2 linked regions of the Homo sapiens genome follow. The protein of the gene in region 2 purifies or fractionates together with the protein of the main gene of each other region. This does not show direct contact. Each region holds a gene or a part of one and is shown on either strand. Other genes may lie near its edges.

Region 1 (3,500 bases), on a different chromosome or scaffold from region 2:
CCTAAAAACTATTATTAAGTAACACCTTAACTGAATTTTCAGCCTTTGAACTCAAGCATAGGAGTATCAGCCAAGCCCTCTCACACAACCAGCCATTGGACCAGCCCATGAAAGTCAGCCACAAATGTCCATTCAGAGAACATCCTCAGTTTCTCCTTGGCATCCTTCAGTGTCTGGGTTAGATTCCATAGGCCTGGAAGGCTTCTCCATTAGAATATCATCTCCCTGCCTCCCACTATCTTCCTTGGTCTCCTCGTGGAAAGAGTGTGGCAGGCAGTCCTGCTCTGAGTTACTCCAGACATAGCCAGGTAAAGTGATGTGGCTGTCAGGCTGTCTGCTGGCGATCTTGGCAGCTTTGCCAGAGATAAGCACCATGCGTGTGCTGGCCGCCACCTGTGACTGGCTGCTGGTGCTGTGCGTCACGGTGGTGAGCACTGAGCCGCATCTGCGGCTGCCACATGGCGGTGTCCTTTTCCAGTCCACGGAGAGGTTCCACCGACTCCACATCTTCTTCACCTCTGCCTGAACCTAAGCCACGAGAAACATGCTGTGCATGAGAAATCCTAAAGGAGACCCTGCAGCCTTGTTACAAAGATGTTTGCCTTGATTTCAATGACAGCAATAATCATTGATTGAGGTTCCTCTACGTGCCAGGGACTTTATCTATGACTTTCTCTCAACCTCAAAAAACCTTCAAGACAGGTGTTAGTTTTGGAGGTGAGCAAATTGAAGCTTAGAGAGAGGTGAAGGGACTTGTCCAAGATCAGACTTTAAACAGAAGTTTAAATGCAGCCCATAGAAATACCTGACATATGGGAGAGGAAAAAAAGGAGATTCTGGGTTGGAAGAGAAACTCAAGATAAACATTGCCAGTGAGAACTTCAGAACTCTCGCGTGGCACATGACAAGCCCACTGGAACCCCTGCACTGAGACCTGCCCAAACTCAAGCATGGTTCTAGCAGCACAAGGTGGCATCCCTAGGATGATCTCAGCCATTGATAGTGCCTGCCTGAGAAAGCTCAGTGCTGCCAGGAGAATTTACTATTTGCTCTAGCCAGCACACACCTGATGATAGGCCCATGACTCCCCTTTCTTAGGGCATTTACTAAAAAGGTTCACAATTGTAAATATGTAGCTCTTCTAACTCAGAAGCATCTCTCTCAAGGACCTGAGAGCCATCCCTTCAAAATATAAAAATCAAGAGGGATAAGGCCTCTTGTCTCCCAGTCTCTGTGGGAAGATAGAATTCTATCTTAAATAACTGCCTGATTGCTAGCACAGCTGGCCTAAACGTGTTTATACTGACCAAATATTTTTTCACTTCTTTGACTCTACTGAGCCCTTACACTCCACCTCCCTCATTCTCCCTTTAAAATGCCCAAATCACTTCTGTGTGAAGTGGAATTGGGCTCAGCTCTTTCCCCTGCTGTCAGTAGTTACTGAATAAAATCTGTTTTCACCACTTAAATTGCTGATGTCTTTGGCACCAGCTGAGGCTGAGGAATGGCGTAGAAGGTACTCAATTTGAAATGTAACTGTCATGCTATCAATCTGCATCGGCAGCCTAAAGGAGTCAGAGTGAGAAAAGAAGGCTCGTGGATAGAAAAGCAGGCACTGCAAATGCATTCTTAATAGGGTGGGGCTCTTATTTCCATTCCTACTACTGAAGATTCATTTCTACTTCAATTGCCACTTTTCAGAAGAGAGTTTATTTGGAAGTTCCATGGGAAGCAGTGGAAATCCAGTATGCTGATGTCACCTGAAACAACAAACTTCTATCTGTTCATCTTGGCAAAAACAAATCAACACCTGACTGACAGAGCAGAAGCACCATCATCTTGGATAAACACCACCACTTTAAGTCCAGCTCCCTTTCTAACCTCATGCATTTTGAGGAAATCACTTCCCTTCTAACAACAAGCAGCCAGAAAGAGCAGACAGTATAAAACACTGATAAGACAGCTCGGGCACAGAGGAAGTGGAGAAAGTCTCTTGGGTAACCACAAAACTTCACAGTCTACAATGGACCCCAGTAAAACAGTGGGTCCTAATAAATACATTCCTTTCCCTTTAGGTGCACCAAGATATGGAAGCTAAAAGCAGACTTGGGGGGCGGGGGGTAGGAGGGGCTGTGCCTGCAGCTGCAGGAAGATGTATGGATAAAACACAAAAATTCTCCCTCCCAGATAAGCAAGACAAAGAGATACAGAAGCAGTCCAAGCCTGTGATAAGCTCTCCCACCCTGAACCCTTAAAAACTCTTAGTCTGTAAGAGAGAAGGCTCTCTGACCTAACTTGGCCAGAAGCCCCTCCCAGGTTTATTCTCCTAAATAAACCCATCTTTGACTGTTGAGTGCTTTTTGGGTTTCTTTCCTCTTTCTTTAACTCTTAAACTGACCTACTTACCCCTCCTGCAAAATAAGGTAAGAACAATACACAAGTAAGTCAGGAAATTAATTTAAGCTCTTTCTGCAAGCACTGGACTAGCATGCCACAATGTCCAAACCCTAAACATGGTCAGAAGCATCAGCTGGTGTACCGCAATAAAAGTATCTGTGCACTTCTGGGGCCTGCAGCAAGCTTAAAATTTGAGAGAAGAAACATGGCAGCTCATCCAACAGCAGGGCATATTAAAAGTTACAAGGTAAAATGTATTATTATCTAGTGTAGTTACTTCTCTCCAGCCAACTCCTAAATGAACTAAAATTGTCCCATCATCATCTTATAGTTCAAAAAACATCAAAATATTTGAATGAATTTGTCCCAGGGAAACTAATAAGTTTTGTACAGAACTTAAAATGGAATAGAAGTTTAAGTATTAACCAGAATATGATGTTCACTGTCCATCCAAGTGTCTGTTTGTATTCCAACAAGTTGCTTTTTAATGTCAGAGTGTACAGATGAGTTCACATTTAAAAGTGCTAGAAGAGGAAGACTTTAGGTTATTTGCACTAATTCTTTCTTTTCCAAAATAATTTATGATTAAAATAGCTTCCTTCTCCTCACCCATTCCATCCTGGAAATCCTGGAAATTCTAAAGAGATTCAGGATACATTGTGATGGCCATTTACAAGCTGAAGCGAGACCTGTCCAAGGTTCCTACAAACCTACCTCTCCATTGCAGTAGCAGTAGATGATAGACACAAAGAAACCCTGCAGACAAAAGAGAAAGTCAGCCCACTGCCAACTCAGAAACTCACAGCACTTAAGCATCTTGTGCCAAAATGTGTACGTCCAAAAATTGTTTTTTATGATTCCTTCAGAGAATTATATACAAATTATTCTCTCCTAGTGTTTCCAAATCCTTATGTTTACATTAAATTTGTTTGACGTCTTTCCTTGGTGTCAGCTGAACCAAATAAGTCACTAAATAAAGCATTCCAAGATACACAAGGAATAGGTTTCTATCCTATTAGTTTCATTTATGTTGTGACCCATGGATCACATAATACCTATCCTCTGCTTGGTAAGAGGAAGTTATAAGCTGTAAATGCTGAAAA
Region 2 (3,500 bases):
CTTTTCACTTTCATACAAGCATCAAGCCTTGTAGCAGGGTTTTTTGGAAAGAGCATGGTTTGGGAACTGGAAATATTAATAATTCCCATTTTGTCCAATCAAGTTTTCTGACTTTCCATCAACTTATCTATAAAAGTTTGATAGAAATATCTATAACACTTGGAAAATTATAAATTATCGTACAAATATAAAGATTGAAAAATAAAGATTATGACATTGCAGAAGAAACAATGCTATTTTTGTGGGTCTTTTTAGGTTTAACTCACTTCTTTCTACACTCCATTCTCCAAAATGATTGTGTCCTTATGGCCTGGTATTTTCTATCATATCTAGCCATTTGTATAGAAAGCAAAATAAAGATGGTAAGCCAAATGACAAATTAAGTCTATAGATAAATAAAGATATATCCTATTGCAATGCTTTTGTTTTTGAAATATCAAGTCCAGCTTCATTTTCTGGTTTAGTTAAAATGCTGTGGGAAGCTTCTCTGGGACTAGAGGACATTGACCTTTGGAAGGCGTTGGCTGCTCCTGAAGAAAGCTCCTGGCTGTTTAAAGGAATGGGGTGGAGTGGAAATACACACAGACAGGAAACCTCACAGGTGGGGAGAAGAGGGCCACGCCCAAAAGCAAGTCAGTTCATTCACCGATCAGATCTTTAATTCTAAGTAGGTCTCCAAACTCAATTGGCCCTCTCAGAAACATGTAGGTTACTGACCTTGTGTATCAGATCTGGGTTAATGTTTATGTCATGCACAAAGAAATAACTCTGAGTACTTTAAAAAAAAAAAAACAACAACAACAACACTAGCCCTTCCTTTTTGCAGGGGAGTTGCAAGTACTTAATTTATACAATTTCCATTAAGCATGAAGATTATTCCCTAGAAGGAAGTCTTTTCTGACCCTGCAGAATATATTAGAATCCCTGTATCTTGCCCTCAAAGCATTTATCTCAGTGAAGAGCCAGCTGTCCATTTCTACATAGGTACAAATTCTGAATCCCTGAGTCAGGAGGCAGAGAGGTTAGACAGGATGAAGTATTTTCCGACCTTCTCTTAGGTGGCCATGACAATGCATCTTCATGTGGCATGGGCTGGGAAGCCATGGGCTGTTTTTTCAAGCCAACGCCAAGTTCCCTATGACTAAAGGACACTCCTACTATATATAGTCTGGCAACCTGCTGGCCCTAGTTTTCCATATCACGGGCCAGGGTTTTTGTCATCACTGGTGTTTTGGAGGGAAGCTAGGTATGACCGAAATCACTCTGAAGTCACTGTCTAGGGGAGTGGGTGAGGTCCGAGGCTGACCAGAGTTCAAGTCACGCACCTTTCTGGGCCTGATTCTCCTCATGGGCCGAGTGGGTGTTTGAGCTCTAAAACAGCAGTCCCCGATCTTTTTGGCACCAGGGACTGCTTTTGAGGAAGACAATTTTTCCACCAAAAGCCAGGTGGGGTGAAGGGGTATAGTTTCAGGATGAAACTGTTCCACCTCAGATCATTAGGCATTAGATTCTCATAAGGATCACAAAACCTAGACCCCTCGCATGCGCAGTTCACAATAGGATTTGCACTCCTATGAGAATCTCATGCCACTGCTGATCTGACAGGAGGTGGAGCTCGGAGCCCAGGTGGTAATGCTCGCTCACCCGCTGCTCACCTCCTGCTGTGTGGCCTGGTTCCTAACAGGCCACAGACTGGTACCTGTCTGCAGCCCAGGGCTTGGGGACCCCTGCTCTGTGATTGTTGTGGCCCCTCTAGCCCTGGTGCCCTGTGCATCTTGTAGTTCCAAATCTGAAATTAATTTTAATTTTATAGACAGAATACTTTGATTCTTGTCTCCTCTCCAAAACCAACTGATACTTTATTTTGGGTAAGATTCCTCATAAAACCTAAAATTATAATTCTCTTCAGAGTCCAGAAATATTACTTACACACCTACTGCTCTCTTTTCTCATGATAGGATGAGTTTATAGATTATTATTTCAAATAAGACTTTTAAAATTATAAATAGAGAAACACAACATTTGGGGATATAGAATAATCCACAAAGCAGTAAACAGTCTGAAAAAAATGTATTGAATCAAAGAAGAAATAGTTTGAGAATGAGTTTTCTAGAATTATATAATCTTGTAGCCTCAAAAAATATGTCTCTTTCCCTGTGAGAAAGACATATAAAGAGTATAATTGATTATCAGAAACTTGGAGCTTTAAATCATAACAAAACCTACATCACAGCTACTTAAAGAAAATGCATTCAAGGTGAGACTTTTAAATGTAGAATTGCCCGACCATCCTTCAAATTTAAACAGTATATGCTTATGAACATTCTTTCCTACAAAAGAAAAGTATACTTTTTCCCCAAGAAATGATGCTGTTGTCACCAAGGACCAAAGGATGAAGTGACAGAACGATCTGTGGCTTGGGTGTAGCCATCTGCCATCAAAACCTGCCTATTCTCCATATTATATTCTGCAATGAACCAGTGCAGAGAATGAGTGGGCAAAGCGGTAGCATACGGTCATCCACAAAGGCACTCCCCATGGTCTCCTTGTTCCTTGAGGAAATCAGCTTCATTTAATAAGGGAAAGGAGAGCCAAGTGCTCCAAAGCATAGGCGGGAGAATGAGAAGGCTCACTCCCAATTATTCAGTGACCCCTCATTACCTGCAGGATAAAGGATGAGCTCTTCCTGCAAATGCTTCGGGTCCTCAAGCTTCCCACTGTCTGTGCCCAGCTGACATTGCAGCCTCACCCACGCTGTAGGGAGTCATTAGGGGATGGGGTCAGAGAGGTAACCAGAAGCTATATGAGTCAGGATGTCTAATCAGGAGTGAGGTGGGAGCCATTATAAGTTCTGAGCAAAGAGTGACAGCGTGTGCATTATATTTTATTCTTATCAATTCTTCCCAAATGCACTCCACATTCCCAGCATACAAACCCACTCCCCTGAGAACTCCCCAAGCATCCCTGCCCATAAAAATCTCATTCTGCTTTGGTGTCCATCTCCAAGGACTCTCCCACATAAAGCTTCCTTGATTCCTCCAACAAGGTAGGACTCTCCCTCCTACTGTAATCCCACGAATGTCCAAAGTGCTTGGCTTAGACGACAGTTACCATTATTGCATTTTCTGCCTTGGATTAATTTTCTTCTTGTTTGCTCCAAGAATACTCGCAGGAGAATCTTGAGGCTGCAGCATTCATCCTAAGAAAACCTTGCCATGAACTATTAATATCTCACTTGTATTATTTTCGCATTACTCCAGTATATCAACTTTGAAAACAAAAGACATCATTCTATTTACAGCATTCTGGTTTTAGTAATGGTATTTCCACTTACATAATATAGTAACTCTCTAGCTCACGGAAAATGTCAAATCCTAGAAAACGTAGCATTCCTACGCGTGATGTTAGCATCATTCTTTAACAGTTGTTAGCCAAAAATTAATTTGATGAATCTGATTTTTCCTAAATAGATTATTCTGATGCAGATGATTTTGATGTTA

The links. The genes of interacting proteins can lie anywhere in the genome.
Region 1: the proteins of SPTLC3 (region 2) and PTH2R purify together in Homo sapiens (co-immunoprecipitation; one large-scale study listed by IntAct). This does not show direct contact.

The regions. Positions count from the first base shown.
Region 1 is NC_000002.12:208,490,292-208,493,791, reverse strand, and holds part of PTH2R (parathyroid hormone 2 receptor isoform 1 precursor), read right to left. Parts: intron 3,154-3,500; coding exon 3,112-3,153; exon of another isoform or gene 3,007-3,111; intron 529-3,006; coding exon 133-528; 3' UTR 1-132. UniProt on the Homo sapiens protein: This is a specific receptor for parathyroid hormone. The activity of this receptor is mediated by G proteins which activate adenylyl cyclase. PTH2R may be responsible for PTH effects in a number of physiological systems.
Region 2 is NC_000020.11:13,067,972-13,071,471, forward strand, and holds part of SPTLC3 (serine palmitoyltransferase 3), read left to right. Parts: intron 1-3,500. UniProt on the Homo sapiens protein: Component of the serine palmitoyltransferase multisubunit enzyme (SPT) that catalyzes the initial and rate-limiting step in sphingolipid biosynthesis by condensing L-serine and activated acyl-CoA (most commonly palmitoyl-CoA) to form long-chain bases.